4 separate regions of the Homo sapiens genome follow, and regions 2, 3 and 4 are each reported to be linked to region 1. The links are microRNA targets in miRTarBase. Many come from high-throughput screens and were not tested one by one. Region 1 holds a microRNA gene; each other region holds the end of a gene's coding sequence.

Region 1 (4,263 bases):
CTCCCAATTCAGATAGAGCCCAGAATTAAAGAATTTTGAAAACTAGGGCCACAATCAGTTCAAATTCATCTTCATTGGATCTGTAAGGAAAAAGCCAATGAAAATGGATTTACCCTGTTCACACCTCACAATCCTACTCTGTCTCTGAACTCTGCTTCTTTGCCAACCAGTTTCATTTATCACGGGCCAGGCTGTGCGCGAGGCACTTGGAAGAATAATGAGTGAGAGTCCCTGCTCTCATAGTGAGCTTCTAGCAGGGCAGTGGTTTGGGTGGTGGCTTTAGGGCCAGGGTTGCTCATGTAAGCTAGATCAGTCAGTCCTGCAAGCTGACATCCAGAGAGATGCTGTGGTTCTCTCCAAACTCTCTTTGTGGTGCATTTTAGCTTGTCTATTACTTCTCAAAGTTTATTTGCCAGGTCCCTAAGAAAGGCCTGTTTTTCCTAGAAATACCTAGGGTGCTAAGCTCTCCTATTAACCAAGGGGTTACCTTAGTTAGCATTGTTCTCTAATGGTACCCTCAGGTCCTTGTCTCTAAAACAATTCAAGGTTGAAGGACTAACCCTCCTCTCAACAGTGGCAAAGAGGCACGGGGCTATTTTTTTTTTTTTTTTGTAAAAGAAATTAAAGACCACACATCCATCTCTGTTTCTTGATAGATTAAAGGATGGGGAAAGGAGGTCTCAGTTTTCTACAGCTGGGAATTTCAGAGCCAGCACCTCACTGCGGGGTAGACTGAAGAGGGTCATAAAGAGCCTCTGGGGGAGGAACACCTCTCCCTTACATCTTCCACAAAAGAACTTCTTGGTTTTTCTCAGACCCATGGCAGAGATGTGCCCTGTCTCAGGCTGACAGCTGGAAGGGGCTGGGACTCAGAGCTAGGTATTGCCAGTCTTCTCCATGACTCCCCCCACTCCTCCTGCTCCTGAGCGTCTCCATCACCAGGCAAGCCCCCACCCCCATTCTGGATAGAGAGAATAAACCCAAGGATGGAAGGGTGGGCTAAAGAGGAAGTGCTCACAATTAAAAAGAGAAAGAATTAAAAGCAGCACCAATAGGGAAGGGTAATTATCCTTCAGTTGCTGCAGAAATACAATTAGGGCCATGCTCTCTGAGCCGCCAGGATATTGTGGCTTTTGCTAATTAAGGAGCGGATGTGTCCTGCCAGCGCAATTAGAGGCTGGCCCAGGCAGCAGGGGCTTTGCCTCTCCTCCACCAGTGCCACACTGCAAGGGAAATTAACCAGGGAGCCCAGCGCTGTGCCTGCAGGGAGGGGATGACTGGGCCAGGATTCCACCAGCCTCCTGTCCACAACCATTTCCCCTTTTCCTCTTCCTGCTCTGCTTACCCCAGCACCACCACTCTGACTTCATTCTGAAGCTTCCAGGGCTCAGTAACCACAGGAAGAATTTTCACCATGGGCCATGCCCATAGGCTTCCAGAAGGGGGAGGCACCAGTAGAGAGGGGTCACCATTTCCAAGCTCTAGTTTCTCTTCTGCATGGTGGTTCAATGCTTTATGATTAGTAAAGGAAAGAGAGAAATGAGCCACTTGCCTGCTTCTCTTTAAAAATAATTCCCCTGTTTGTAAAGGAAATATGCTCAAATTGGGTGCAGTGGCTCACGTCTATAATCCCAGCACTTTGAGAGGCTGAGGCAGGAGGATCACTTGAGCCCAGGAGTTCAAGACCAGCCTGGGCAATATACTGAGACCTTGTCTTTACTAAAAAAAAAAAAAAAAAAAAAAAAATTAGCTGTAGTCTCAGCTACTAGGGAGGCTGAGGTGGAAGAATCACTTGAACACTCGAGTCTGGAAGGTTGAAGCTGGAGTGAGCTGTGATTGCACCACTGCACTACAGCCTGGGTGACAGAGCAAGACCCTGTCTCACCAAAACAAAACAAAACAACTGTGTCCATTATAGAAAGTAGAACACTCCAGAAAAAAGGGAAAAGTAAGAAAAAATAATTTCTCCAGGGAATTCTGAGGTGAGGAGAGGTGTTCAAAGATGAACTTAGTAATAGGAGCGGAGACAACGCCTCGCCTGAAGGAGCATCCAGACCGCTGACCTGGTGGCGAGGGGAGGGGGGTGGTCCTCGAACGCCTTGCAGAACTGGCCTGGATACAGAGTGGACCGGCTGGCCCCATCTGGAAGACTAGTGATTTTGTTGTTGTCTTACTGCGCTCAACAACAAATCCCAGTCTACCTAATGGTGCCAGCCATCGCAGCGGGGTGCAGGAAATGGGGGCAGCCCCCCTTTTTGGCTATCCTTCCACGTGTTCTTTTTTGTATCTTTTGTGTTTCCTAGAAAACATCTCAGGTCACCACCCTAAACACCCATCGGCAGACTCTTCCAGAAACATGGACAAACTATGGTGTGAGCAGGGAAGTGGGGCAGGGTCTCTGTTTTCAGGGAGCAGTGGACTGCTTCCATACCACTACCTGAAGGGCAGGGGGAGAAAAACCCTCCTTAATTACTAATTCCCCCAACAATCACTTTGGGGCACCTATAATGGAGGCACCTTGTGACTCCACATCCTGGGGCTCAGGGCCTCATTGTCTGTGGCCCGACAGCCACAGTGTATGCGGGCACCGAGAGGTATGCACTGGAGACCGAGGTTCCCGGATGTTCAGTGTACCTGGCAGCAGGGGGGACACACCTGACCTCGGAGCTTGTCTGGTGCCTGCTCCACAGCTGAGGGAGTGGACTTGTGTGTATGGAATTTCTTGGTCCCAGTACCTGCCTCTGTGCTGCTACATCCAGAGGTGTGGCCAAGGGAAAAAAGCCCAGTGCTTGGGGACCATCCCCCACTGTGGCAGGAATACAATTAGAATTAGTGATCAGAAAAAGCATTTCCCAGCCTTTTATTTATTTATTTATTTATTTATTTATTTATTTATTTATTTATTTTTGAGACAGAGTCTCACTCTGTCCCAGGCTGGAGTGCAGTGGTACAGTCCTGACTCACTGCAACCTCCACCTCCTGGGTTCAAGTGATTCTTGTGCCTCAGCCTCCCGACTAGCTGGGATTACAGGTGAATGCCACCAACTCAGCTAATTTTTTGTATTTTTGGTAGAGAGAGGGGTTTGCTATGTTGGTCAGGCTGGTCTCGAACTCGTGACGTCAGGGGATCTGCCCACCTCGGTCTCCCAAAGTGCTGGGAGTATAGGCATCAGCCACCTTGCCTGGCCTCCCAGCCTTTCTGCCTGGGATCCCTCTGCCTGGGGGGTACCTTGCCCTAAGGTGAGCACCAAGTTACAGTGATGACACTTTCAGTGGAGATTAATTTTCAAGCAACAAATCCAAATGCCCTCCCTATTCCTAAGTATATTCCCACCCTCCTCCATCCATACAGCAGAGGAGACTAAAGCATATTACAAACTAAAGTTGGGGGTTGGGGATCGTACTCATTTAGGGAATGCTAAAAATGCAACCATTAGCTGAGCTCATTCTACCTCTTCCGGTTGCTAGCTGTGTGACCTCTGGCAAGGCACTTGACCTCTCTGAACCAAGTCAGCCCTTCACTTCTACCCAGAGACTTTGGCTGCCTCTGCTTCTGCTGCTCCCTATCCTACAAACTGGCTCTCTTCTTCTGCACTTCCAGTCTTAAATTTCCCTTTACTCCTAACCCTGCCTGAAGCCAGTGGGAAGCCAGTCCTATTAGAAATCTCATTTACACTTCAGAAGTCTGCAAATTGGTGTCACTCAGCAGGTATCTGTCCTTCACAGCGGGAGAGAAGCCCAGATTGGGCAGGAAGGGCAGAGCTGGAGAACAGGAGAGGAGGGGAGTTGAGTCTCTCCTGGGCAGCCCTCAGCCTCTGGGGCTGGTTTGGAGATGGAACGGGGAGAGATTGTGTCTCAGTGAAACAAGCATCTCGGGGGGGGATGTGGGGTGCATTCCTGATTTGAGGGATGGATATGACAGCCTTTGTTAAGTGGTGGGGGGAGTCCTGGCTCTGAAGTCAAACATGTGCCAGTTTCAATCTTGGCTCCACTGCTTACGAGCTGTGTGACTTTGAGTCAGTCACTTAACATCTCTGAGTCTCAGATTCCTCAACTGTGAAACAGAATTGATCACATCTACCTTGCTAGGTTATTACGATAAGTAGGCAAGTGAAGTGTCATAATATAAAATAGCATGGGTATATACCCAATATTGGTCTCTTCTGCCTTTTCTTTCATAGTTTTCATGGTTGTCCTCTTCACCAGCCTTGTGCACCCACAAATCTGCCATCCTGAAATAGGAAAAAATGGAAACCACCATCT
Region 2 (4,243 bases), not on the chromosome of region 1:
CGCACTCTCGTTATACATCAGCGAACTCATACAGGAGAGAAATCTTACATATGCAATGAATGTGGTAAAGGCTTCACCACAAAGCGCACTCTTATTATACATCAGCGAACTCATACAGGAGAAAAACCCTATGAATGCAATGAATGTGGTAAAGCCTTCAGCCAGAAAATATGCCTCATACAACATGAGAGATGTCATACAGGAAAGACTCCCTTTGTATGTACCGAGTGCGGAAAATCCTATTCACACAAATATGGCCTCATTACCCATCAGAGAATTCACACAGGAGAGAAACCTTATGAGTGCAATGAATGTGGAAAAGCCTTCACCACAAAGTCAGTACTCAATGTACATCAAAGAACGCATACAGGAGAGAGGCCGTATGGATGCAGTGATTGTGAGAAAGCCTTCTCCCACTTATCAAACCTTGTCAAACATAAGAAAATGCACACAAGAGAAATGGGTAGAATCAGTCAAGTTGAAAACTCCTGTAATGGAGAGTCACAGCTCCTTCCTTATAAGTGAACTCATGCAGAAGAAAACCCTACTAGTGCCGTGACTATGGAAATGCCTTTTGTGGCAACTCAGACTTCATTAAACATCAGTGTGTTTCTAGCCAATTGGAACATAAACATGGTGCTGCCTGTTGACAGATGTGTGTCTGTCCTCAGGAGGTGAAATAATTTGCCCTAGAGATCAATTTGATGAATACAGTAAATAAGGTAGTGCCTTTAGTGGTCTTTTACCTCATATTTTCTGTCAATGAAAATACGTTGAATAAACTATATTAATGTGGAGATGTTTTGAGCAATAATTTCTGCTCATATGTCTGAAAAGTATACAGAGATAAATTCTGTGAATACAAAGACTAAGAAAAGTCTTCTGTGGAAAGATAGACTTTATTATCAGGTTTCATCATAGATTTCAACGTAAGTGAGCTTATTGTTGATAGAAACATGATGACCATGACAAAGTCTTTACTCAGAAATATGACCTCAGTGAGTGTCAAAGTTTACACTGGAAAATAACTTTAAGGTGACAGTATTGATGGCAGGATTTCAGCGACGCACTCTGCTTCATCATTTGTCAGGAGATCACATAGAAAGTAAAATTGTTCCGAACATGCTATCAAATAAATGTGGAACACCTTTAGCAAACTATCAACAGCTCATGAAGGCATGAAATGTGGTGAAAATGATGAATATTTGAGTGCTTTTTCTTAATAAGTATAACCTTAAACATCAGCTAATACACCTGGTGTGCATTTTCAGTCAGGATACCTTAATCCTCATTTCTAGTTGCCTTGCCAATGATTCCATAATATACTGTCTCATTACTGTTTATTTTTACTGTTGTGTAAAATTGTGGTATAATGAGAAATACATTTGGTCTTTGTTCCTGGTTCCTGGCATAGAGCTCCTAAAACGCTTAGAATTTCATGAGTGATAAGAGTTTTTTGGTTTTGTTTTGTTTTTGCTGTTGTTGTTATTCATAGCACTGCCCTTTTAATTACACCTGATTATACTACTGAAGTGACTTATGGTTGCTCCCCTAGACAGCCTCAGAATGGGGCTGTTCTCTAGGAAGATCAAGTAACTAGAGGATGGAGACTTTGTGCCCCATTTCTCCCACCTCCTGGAAGGGGAGGGGTGCTGGAGATTAGATTAGACAATGAGATTAAGAGAACTCCAAATAGCCCAAGAGGGTGGTGCACCCCCAACTTCATAGGGGTAGAGGCTCCTGAGATTAGGAGAACCCTTTTTAGGCTTTACTCTATGTACCTCTTCATTTGAGTGTTCATTTGCGTCCTTTATAACCAGTAAAACAAAGTACGCTGTTTTCTTGAGTTTTGTGAGCCCTGTAGCAAATTATCAAACCTGAGTAGGGCAGTGGGAACTCGGAATTTATCACCATTCAGAACTGCAGGTTGTCCTTGTGAGTGGCATCTGATGTGGGGGAAGTCTTGGACTGAGCCCCTTAACTTGTGGAGTCTGCACTAATTTAGACTGCACTAACTAACTTGCACTGCACTAACTTGGACTGCACTAACTTGTGGAGTCTGCACTAACTTGGAGAAGTTAGTGTCAGAATTGAATTATAGAACACCCAGTTGTTCAGAATTGAATTGTAGAACACCCAATTGGTGTGGGAGAATTAGAGAATTTATTTGTGTCAGAAAATACTCCAGAACAACCACCCCATATTATGATTAGCTCTTTTCCTTTCTTTGGCTCTGAGCTTAATTGTACATTAAGCAAACTTAAGTAGAAAAGAAACTGAATATGTTAAATATATTAACAACATATTTGGACTTGCTTAACTAAGATTATAGAGATGATCAGTTTATAAAACCACCTTCAACTTAAATAAATTTGAACTCGAAATTGCAAAAGCAGTCTAGAGGCTTTGCTAGTATCCTTCAACCAATTTCTAGTAAAAATATCCTATATAACCATAATTATCAAAACCAGAAAAACAACATTGGTAGGATACTATAAAGTACTAATCTTATTTTGGATTTGACGAATTTTTACATGTTTTTTTCTTTTTTAGTTTGTACTCTAAGAAGTTGTATTACATGTACAGATTCGTGTAACCACTGCAACCACATAAAACTAATGAACACAAAGTCCCTCATGCTACCTTTTTATGCTTACACTCCATCCAAACCTAACTCTGCCAACCACTTTTCTCCTATCAGTATAATTTCATCATTTCATGAATATGATAAAAATAAAATTGTTTTTGTAAATGGTTTTTATAAATTTTATATAAATAAGTTATATGAATTTTTATTGATAGAGAGTATGTAAGCTTTTGGCATTTTTGTCACTCAGCAAATTACTCCTAAGGTTTATATGAGTTGATGAATAGTTGTTTTATTATTTTTTTTTACCACCATGTATCTAACCAGATGAAAGTTGTTTATATTTGAGAGTAGTATACATATTTGATGTAGTAGTTTATCCATTCACCTATGAGATATATTTGCACTGTTTTCCTGGTTTTAAGTGCTATAAATAAAGATGCTGTGAAATCTACATACAGCTTTTGCTTTTGCTTTTTTTTTTTTAGGATTTACAATCTTAACCTCTTTTTTTTCTTTTTTAAGAGACAGGGTCTCTTGAGAGGCCGAGGCAGGCGGATCACTTGAGGTCAGAAGTTCAAGACCAGCCTGGCCAACGTGGCGAAACCCTGTGTCTACTAAAAATACACACAAAAAATTAGCTGGGTATGGTGCTGGGCTGTTGGGAGCCGAAGGCCCATGGGATGTGACCAACTCAGCATTCCACTGGAGGCTATATGATCAAACAGCAAACTTTATCATGAATGCACGATGTGGGCAAACTCATGACTGCTTCCGCTGCCAGAAGGTTTGCTGAGGGCAATCGCTTCCTGGTGCTGAGCTCCTTGAGGTTATCTACTGGGACATCTAGAGAATGCCATCTTGCAAACCCTACTCTGGACTGAGTAGCTGACCCCTTCTTCCACCCGCCTTCTCACTATCTCTTTTGCCTAATAAATATGGAGGGCTGTGTAAAGCTCAGGGCCCTTGTCCACTAGAGGCAAGGTGTCCCCTGATCCCTTCTTCCAAATATACTCTTTTGTCTCTTTTATTCCCGTTTCCCCCACTTTTTTCAGTCCCCCTAGGTCCTTGTGGGTTACGTAGTGGCGCCCCAAACAGTGACAGGATCGGGCGCTCTACAGTTGGCGCCTGTAATCCCAATTACTTGTGAGGCTGAGGCAGGAATCACTTGAACCTGGGAGGCAGAGGTTGCAGTGAGCTGAGATCCTGCCACTGCACTCCAGGCCTGGGCAACGGAATAGGCTCTGTCTGAAAAACAAACAAAAACAACAAAAAAAAGAGTCTCTGTTGCCTAGGCTGGAGTGCAGTGGTGCGATTATAGCTCACTGCAGCCTCAAACTCCTGGGTTCAAGTGTTCCTCCTGCGTCAGCCTCCCATGTAGGTGGGACTATGTGTGTGCACCCTCATGCCTGGCTTTTTTTTTTTTTTTTTTTTTTTTTGTAGAGACAGCATGTTTTAGGCCATTCTTGCATTGCTATAAATAAATACTTGAGGCTGGATAATTTATAAGAAAAGAGGTTTAATTGGCTTATGATTCTACAGGCTGTACAGGAAGCATAGCACTGGCATCTGGTCCTGGGGAGGCCTCAGGAAGCTTACAATCATGGTGGAAGGTGAAGAGGGAGCAGGAGTAAGACAGAGTGGAGGGGGTAGGTG
Region 3 (4,263 bases), not on the chromosome of region 1:
GAGGCTGAGGTGGGAGAATTGCTTGAACCCAGGAGGCGGAAGTTGCAATGAGCTGAGATTGTGCCACTGCACTCCAGCCTGGATGACAGCCAGACTGTCTCAATAAAAAAAAAAAAAAAATTTTGACCAAATTTGTTTTGCTTATTTTTATTTTGTTGCTATTATTGTTTTCCAGAAATGGTATAGTTTGTAGATGCTGTTGTTAATAAAAAAAAAAACAGATTTTCATTTGAATTTGATTTGAATTTCTGTGTTGAACTCACCGTAATTCAAGAAAATTTGCTATAAAATATTTACAGGTCTGAAGAGTTCTTACTTTTATCAGTGACATCATGAGTTGGTGGCAGTGTTTACAGAGCCTGAAAATAATTCAGATAGGGGCTTTGGGTGTATGACTTCTAGGCATTATAGCATATGTGTGTTTTATATAGTATATAATGTAGGCTTTATATGAGGTCATACATGTAAATATTTAGGAAATTTTAGCTGTCATTACTTGTAATTAATCATAAGATCACATTATTGTTCCAAAGCAAATATGGCCTTCAGTAAAGTTGTTAATTGTTGCTTTGTTGTTGTTTTTGTTTTTTTCTTTTCTCTAGACAGGGATGACGTTGAATGAGCGGTTTGGGATCCTGAAGGAACAAAGAGCCACTCTCACATACAACAAAGGGGGAAGCCGCTTTGTCACCGTGGGATAGGTCCCATGTCAAAGGAACTTTTGAGTGATGACTCTGAGAAGTTGAATTGCTTGAAGAGTTCATCACGGAAATTCAAGAAACTTTACTTCAAAATATTCACAAGGCTAAATAACTCTTATTTTTATTTTTGAAGGTTTTTTTTTTTAAAAAAAAAAACGTATAAAATAATGCCCTGAAAGAATAATAGGGATTATACCTGTCTGTTCTTAAAGATTTCATGGTTGGCTCAGACAGAACAATCATCTGTTTGACTTCTTTGGTTCCTCATGCAGCAGAAGGAAGACAGAAAGATAGAAATTGATTATTTTTATGATAGCAGTATTCAGGATCTCATCACCTTTGCCCGTGTTTTAGACTTTGTCATGGTAAATCCTGGTCTTCATAAACATGAGTAGGTCCCTTGGTTGCTGTCACTTGCCCTTTAATAGTGTTGATGTAGTCAGTGCCGTTGCCTTTTCTTCATTAGAGACACAGAACAATGTATTAGAATTTCCAGCTGTGGGTTTGAAGACTTAGGGGGACATCCAGAACGTGCTTCCTCTTTCAGACGGTGTAAAGTCCCCTGGAATTACACAGCTTTAGTGCTGAGCTTTTAACAGGAAATGTGGCCCTAGGTATTAGTCTTAGTTTAAAATGTTGGTGTTTAGAGACTGTAAATGCATATTCACAAAGTTATCTGATAGGGCCTTGGAGGAGAAGGTCCAGTTTTAAAAAATGACAGTTTGTGTTTAATAAATGAAGGCATGAGAGGAAGTAAGTAGCAAGTTGAAGGACAGGTAGTTGAGATGAAACACTTCAAAACCCTGGTTATAGATGTACTGTTTGGATGTAGCATAGTCTTGAGTCTAGCGTCCACAAAGAATTATTCAAATGATATTTAGAAGAATTATAACTATTACATTGAATGGAGTCCCTTGGATATTTTGATAGTAAAATTAATAGCCATAAAGTCCTAGACTTCTTATTTGAAGTTAAAATTTCTTATTTGAAAAGTTGAAATTTATGAGCTTTGAAGATTGCTAAATTAAATAATTTATAGCTCCAAAAACAAAAATATACTTGTATATGTCACAGAGAAAAAAAATGCAAAATTTATAATAGAGTTACATTAACCTTGTTGTTTACCTTTCACTGATTTCTTATATGGTATAAATTAAAGTTCAGGCATTTATGGGGAGAAAAGGCCCTCCCCACCGACCCGCCACCTGCCACCTCTGACGGAGTGGGAGAAGTTAGTCTGTGCTAAGATAGTACTGAGTCCCCAGATGTTGTATACTGTAAATTACAGTATAATGCCAAATGCAGCAAAATCTTCCAGCTGTACGTTACAAGTTTGGTCATTTTGAAGCTTGACATTTTAGTTTGCCATTATGTTAAAAACATCTAAATAGGTGTTAGTTTCTCAGGAGTAGATTGTTAGTGTTGACTTTTCCTGTAAAGCAGACATCGTTCTTGGCCTGCCCTGCATTGTATACTAGATTTCATTGTTGTCTCTCATGCTTCTTGAGTTGCTTCATGGTTTATGCTCGCCATGGAAAGCTATCAGTAACAGTTTCATGCTTATACCAAAGAATTAAATCTGATCTTTAATATCTGATATTTTCCTGGTACTCGTACTGATAAGGGATTATTGGAAGTCAGTCACAGAATTTGGAAATAAATTCTAGTCTCTCCTTAGCTATTTGATGCTTTTCATATAGGCCAAGAACTCATTGCAAAACATTTTTGCAAGGATGAATGCCTGTATTTGGTCTAGGAACAGTACATTTTAGTCTGATTTAGAATTACTGGTAGCTTATTTTAAAGCAAGGAAAAGCAGCTGAGCTCAAGTTTGCTGTCTTTAGAATGGTTTGTGAAAATATGGTATAAAGGTGTTTTCATTTTCCTGTTCTTACCTATTATTGTATAGAGCTATTCATGCCATTTTTTGGGAAAACTTTAAAAATTGCCCCAAATACTGACATTGAGTGCATTAAATAACAAATTATCTTTGATACATTAAACTTTTATTCTTCATGCATCTGTAATTTAATTTTAAGTATAATGTTTTGCCTTTGGTACAACTAAATTAAAACTCTTGGTGGTCACATATTGTATATAAACAAAACAATATGCTTTGTTGAAGGAAAATTTTCTTTATTGGAATGTGGTTGTAATCCTTGTTCAGTTCTTAAGTTTCGGTTTTTTTTAAAAACAGGATGCAACTTAAACTTTTCTTTGCATCAAGGTATATGCAAAACATTGGTGCCGTGCATCACCAAATGAAAGTTTGTATTTAACGAGGAGGTGCTTTACACTGTACTTTTTGGTGTTTTTTGGAAAAGTTACATTTAGATCTATTCTGAAGCTGTTCATTTTTAACAAATAAAATGTTACAGGTTTCACATGATTTATTCTCAGCTCTAAAGATTGAGTTGTGGTTTTTAGATTGTTCTATGTTACGAAGAACTTTGTAGTGGTTATCTATATTTGTAGTTTTTAGGGTGTGAAACCTTATCTACTAGCAAAATTGGTAAATCACTGTAGACTCTTCTATTAGCATCCCTCTCTCTTTTGATGATTTCATTTGTAGCTCCAACAAATGAATCTAAAAAGAAGAATCCAGGCTGGGCACGGTGGCTCATGCCTGTAATCCCAGAACTTGGGGAGGCCAAGGCGGGCGGATCATGAGGCCAGGAGCAAGACCAGCCTGGCTAACATAGGGAGACTCTATCTTTACTAAAAATACAGACATTAGCTGGTGTGGTGACATGTGCCTGTGGTCCCAGCTACTTGGGAGGCTGAGGCGGGAGAATTGCTTGAATCCAGGAAGCAGAGATTGCAGTGAGCCGAGACCACGCCATTGCACTCCAGCCTGGGTGACAGAGTGACACTCTGTCTTAAAAAAACAAAAAAAAAGAATCCAGTATACTTTGCAATGCAGAATATTGGGTTAGATGAGCCTTTAGAGACTAATCCAGTTTAACCCCTCCTTTTTACACCTTAGTAAAGTGAGTCCTAGTGTTTTCAAGACTTGCATGTGGCAGAGTTATTTTTTGAGCTCAGATCTTCTAATTCTTAATTGATAATAAACTGCTTTGGTGAATTAACACCCACAGAAAATAGTGGAATGGTGTGTGGTTTTCAAATACCTAAGAATTGGTAATAGCCATGCTTTAGCATTTTTAGCATGGTAAGTAAATCTATTCTACCAGTGATGGTTATACTTTATTACTTTGCTATTTGGGTTAGGTAGACCTGTTAGAAAAGTCCAGTGTTCCTAATCAGATATGCATTTTTTAAAAACAGGCATAAACTCTTCACCACAATTTTAATTACAGTCATCCCTCAGTATACACGGAGGATTGGTTCCAGGACCCTTGTATATACCCAACCCTGCGCAATACTGAAGTCCCACATCTGTGTAAACGAAAAGTTGGCCCACTGTGTACATGGATTTTCCATTCCAAGATGTTTTTTTGGTTCAAAACAATTTGCTTATAAGTAGACCCAGGTAATTCAAAGCCATGTTGTTGAAGGGCCAACTGTTTAAGCCAATCGTAAAATACTGTGTCTGAGGAAA
Region 4 (4,263 bases), not on the chromosome of region 1:
CTCAGCAGCAGAGCTGGACTCGGGGCCACCGCACAGACAGAGAGGAGTAGGCACCCCTGCCCTCGGCCTCCGCACGCACGGCCCTCAGCAGCAGAGCTGGGGGTCTGGAAGCAGGAGGCACAGGGCTGCCTTGAGGGTACGAGGCTGATGGCACACTGCACTGTTCAGTGAGGGCATTGGTCCTCCAGGCAGCAGCAAAGAGGCAGCACTGGAACACAGACTCCGCTGGCCAGGTGGAGTGATGCTGTGCTAGAAATGGGAACTCGGGAAGATGGTGAAACAGTCGCAGAAGCCACCGAGAGAGAAGGCTGGTAGGAAACACCGACAGGTGCTGTCGCCAGGAAGTCTGTATGGGGAACGATTAGTGGGCGGCAGACGGAGGACGTGGAGAGGCCGGAGGAGACTGTCGGGCAGTGCTCAGGCAGGTCAGAGAGAGCCAAGTGGAACTTTGAAACCACGGCTATTAAATAAAGCATTAATAAACATATAATGATGGCTTTCTTTTCTGTCTTTTAGTGCTGTGTTTACCTGGACAAATTTGTTGGTGGTTGTGGTTGAGCTGGATGGGTCGGAACAAGAAGCCTTGGACCTGGTTCCCTTGGTGACCAACGTGGTCCTGGAGGAGCACTACCTGATCGTCGGAGTGGTGGTCGTGGTGGACATCGGCGTCATCCCCATCAACTCCCGTGGGGAGAAGCAGCGCATGCACCTGCGAGACGGGTTTTTGGCAGACCAGCTAGACCCCATCTATGTGGCCTACAACATGTAGTCTCGTCTCTTGGCTTCCATGGACTTTTCTAGAGATGTAGACATTGTTCTCCGTGTCCACTGAAGCGTGCAGACACAGGGCAACACTCACCAGAATACAGCCATTTGTGGTGAGAGTGGAGGAGGAAGAGGAGGAGGAAGAGGACTTCTCACAGCAGCCACGATTGGCATGGGGGTGAAATGTGAATTTACCACTGAATTTCGCTCAGAAGGACTTTGGATTACTGCCTTCAGTTTGTTGGAAAAGCCCATTTCAAAACTTTCTTTTCTTTTCTTTCTTTTTTAATTATTGGATAATAAGTGCTTTCTTCGTAAATGTGGTATTTTGTTAAGCCGAAATAGCAATTAAAAAAATATCCTGCCCTCCAGATGGGTTCTTTTAAACAATTTATGTAGTGTGACAAAGAATTGTTTTCTCTGTTTTAATGTGTCATGAAATCTTAATGACATGGATCTGTTACTAATTTAAGCCATTGCTAGATCTCATCCTTTTAGGAAAGTTTGAGGTACGAGAAAACCTTCCAAATAGCACCTTCCAATTAGATAATAGCAGCTTTCTTTGTCAGAAATGTGCTGAAGAAACAAAGGCTGGTATACGGCCTTCGAAGTTAGTATAGAATGAGAAGAAATTATAAATAAGGTGTATTTCGGCAATTATCTTGCAAATATCTTTGTACTAAACTAAAAAGATAAAATAAGTTAACTTCCTCAATATGTAATTATGTACAAAACGTTTAATTTATTTTGATCTCTTTAGAACTATAAAAGAGAAAAACATTCAAGAATATTAAAGTCTTGTAATGTTTGCTAATATAAAAAAGTGTTGTATTATCTTGCGTGGATAGTATCACAACAAATATATATATATGAAATATAAATTCACTAATGAACAAAGGAGATTTTAAAGTTTAAGATGCAGAACTTGTCACTTGCATGGTGTGCCCCCCGTACTCACATACACTCTGCTGTTGCCAGCAGTCGCAGACCGCAGGAGCCCTGTCTAAAAGTTTCTTCTAGAACCAGAGACCAGCAAGTGAAATTATTGCCATCTCAAGGATGGCAAAAGAATTCAAAGCTCAATGTGCACTATTTTTTTCTTTGCTGTGGGACAACAGTGAATGTGTTTATGCCAGCGTGTGCTGATGATACTGAGGGGCTTTAGGTTGGCAAATAGCACTGTTTTCTTAGCTGCAAGAATTCATTGCACAATGTTTTTCATCATTTTTGTTAATGTCATCTTTTTTTGGTCCTTGCTACGAAAAGGAATGCGATTCTGTGGTCATTCGCACTGGGTTGCATTGATTCCCCCTCTGATGGCCAATGTGGAGTGGACAAAGTGTCCGGAACTCACATCGGTGATCGTCCCCTCGTCTTAAGACCCAGCCCGCTCTGTGTGAGCCTCTGGGGCTCCCTCGCTCAGTGAGCACAGTTCCCCGGGGGTTCATGCCAGAGCTCCGGCTGAAGCAAGAAGTCCTCCAGCTGCGTCGTTTGCCGCCTGTGGACGAGTGCGCCCCAGTTTCTGCCCTGGCAGCTCCTGGCCACACCTTCTCAGAGCTCACCTGTGCACTTCTAAATTGAATTGGCCCACGGTGTCCAACCAAGAAGGAGCATCTGCACTCCGAGAAAGATGTGTTCTGTAACTGCCCCAGTGTGACCCCGCAGTGGCTCTCGGTGCTAGATATGCATGACTAAGATTGATGCTGGGCAAAATGTAGATGATCTTTCATTATGTTGTGGGCAGCGTCTTTCTCTGCCTTTGCTATATGCAGTCAGCAGTAAGCCTTTTGCTAAAAGAGTTTTGTTTGACTTCTGAGATCCAAGGCTGATTGTTGTTAAAAAAAAAAAAAAAAAAAAAGTGGCACATTTAAAAAAATGTGTCTGCATATGTGGTGCATCCTTCCATCTCCACAAACCATTTGATTCTTGAAATATTGTTTGACCTCATTGCTGTGTGTGAATATTTCTCCACATGCTTCAGATGCACATTCCTAGTCTCTGCTTCCTAAGGGGGGAACCACCACACATTGGGGGGAAAAAAGACATTTTCCTACACCCACCCACCTTGTTGAAAGGGAGGTAGGTTTGGGGCTTCAGGCCAGGCACTGACTATGAAACATTAGCTGCAGTGTGCAGGACAGCTTTGAGGTCCAGCTGAAGTCAGGAAGCAAAACAAATGTAGATGTCACTTCAAACATAATTTCAACTGTCACCAGATCAACTCTACATTCAAGGAGTGTGGACGCTGCAGTGCAGTTGTGAGGGCAGTTAGCAGCCGCCTCTTCTGCATCCTGTCAACTCTGATTAGTTAGAGTTTAGGCTCAAAAGAGTTGGTGGACTGAGATTGAAATTTGGTTGTGCAAGAGAAAGGAAAGGAGACACTTAGTACCACCAGTTTCAGCAATAAAGAAGGGTCATTCTGTATTCAAAATTGTACTGTAGATAAATCATTCATGAGATTGTAAAAAATGTTTGTCTTGTGACCTTGTGCTTTTGAAGTCAGACAAAACCGTGTAATCAACTTGCACAAAAAGAGGGTACACAGTGAACATATAAACACAGACCTAATCAAACAGGAGCAGATTCCTCATGGTGCTTGTTTATTATATATATTTAATCCTGCTTGACACTTTACCCAAGGGAGATGGTCCCTTTTATCAGTTGAATGTTAGCAGCGTTATTTCAGAGTGTGGTGACTGGTTAGAGAAACTCATGTACTCAACCAGCCACAGTTTCAAACAAAATTTTTATGTGCAAAGGACAGCAACCTTCTTGTATGTTAAACCACCAGTACGCTTTGTACATCTGTGATAACGCCTGTTTTATATTCAAATGAACAAATAAAAGCTTTTATTTTTGTTGCTCTGAAAATAGCAGTTTCTTAATTGGTCCCCTGGAAAGATGTCTGGGACAGCTTTAATCCCGGGAAGGAAGTGACTCCTACAGGGAAATGTATCTGACTCTGTTTACATAATTTGTTGCATTACTTAGTACAGATAATCATACTTTGAAAAATGTTTAAATTTTGATGTGGGCATTTATTGCTAAAAATAATTCCTATGGCAACAAATGTTTTGTGAAATGTTTTTTTTAATTCTTTTAAATATATCTAAATATATTTGTTCACATTTTGCTGCAAGTGTACAGATTATTGGTAATTTGGGGACAAACAGCGTGAGTCCTGTGTGCAAATGCTTTCTATCAGCTGTATCGTAGGGAACCTTTGCGTGTCAGGAAGTACGAGTACTTGACTGTTCCACCCCAAATTGTCTTTATCCATTTGACAACCAAAAGCTGCATCTTTTGCCCAAGATCTGGGAATTCTTATGGCTTTGTCTTTGGGAAAGCAGTAGCAGATCAACTGGCCTTCAGACTAGTGGTTCCATGAAGATAAGTGTTTATTCACAAGAAAAATCAATGGAGCTAGGGCCGGGCACCGTGGCTCACGCCTGTAATCCCAGCAATTTGGGAGGCCGAGTTGGGCGGATCACGAGGTCA

The links. The annotated mature microRNA hsa-miR-3529-3p reads AACAACAAAAUCACUAGUCUUCCA and lies in region 1 at 2,144-2,167, opposite strand. An mRNA with a match to its seed (bases 2 to 7 or 8) in the 3' UTR can be bound and repressed. Matches are read on the target gene's strand: a 7mer-m8 pairs with bases 2 to 8, a 7mer-A1 pairs with bases 2 to 7 and ends in A, and an 8mer does both.
Region 2: miRTarBase lists ZNF614 as a target of hsa-miR-3529-3p. Seed matches in the 3' UTR shown: 7mer-m8 at 1,480-1,486.
Region 3: the mRNA of FYTTD1 is a reported target of hsa-miR-3529-3p. Seed matches in the 3' UTR shown: 7mer-m8 at 1,816-1,822, 7mer-A1 at 1,968-1,974 and 7mer-m8 at 2,186-2,192.
Region 4: miRTarBase lists DIP2C as a target of hsa-miR-3529-3p. Seed matches in the 3' UTR shown: 7mer-A1 at 1,590-1,596 and 7mer-m8 at 2,595-2,601.

What each region holds. Positions count from the first base shown.
Region 1 is chr15:88,609,713-88,613,975 of GRCh38, forward strand. MIR3529 (microRNA 3529) reads right to left here and starts at 2,212; the gene lies at 2,135-2,212. MIR7-2 (microRNA 7-2) reads left to right here and starts at 2,113; the gene lies at 2,113-2,222. It also overlaps a transcript of AEN not described here. RefSeq lists an enhancer at 3,322-4,006.
Region 2 is chr19:52,012,122-52,016,364 of GRCh38, reverse strand. ZNF614 (zinc finger protein 614) reads left to right here. Exons shown (of 5, transcript NM_025040.4): 5 at 1-3,041. The coding sequence ends at 525. The region is part of intron 1 of LOC124904755 (a long non-coding RNA gene); the gene reads right to left. Among named protein-coding and RNA genes, the nearest start is that of ZNF615, 6.0 kb to the right of the region's middle.
Region 3 is chr3:197,781,209-197,785,471 of GRCh38, forward strand. It overlaps FYTTD1 (forty-two-three domain containing 1), which reads left to right. Exons shown (of 9, transcript NM_032288.7): 9 at 603-4,263. The coding sequence ends at 701. Among named protein-coding and RNA genes, the nearest start is that of LRCH3, 7.9 kb to the right of the region's middle. RefSeq lists an enhancer at 1,231-1,430.
Region 4 is chr10:273,831-278,093 of GRCh38, reverse strand. It overlaps DIP2C (disco interacting protein 2 homolog C), which reads left to right. Exons shown (of 37, transcript NM_014974.3): 37 at 517-3,893. The coding sequence ends at 769. Among named protein-coding and RNA genes, the nearest start is that of ZMYND11, 140 kb to the right of the region's middle.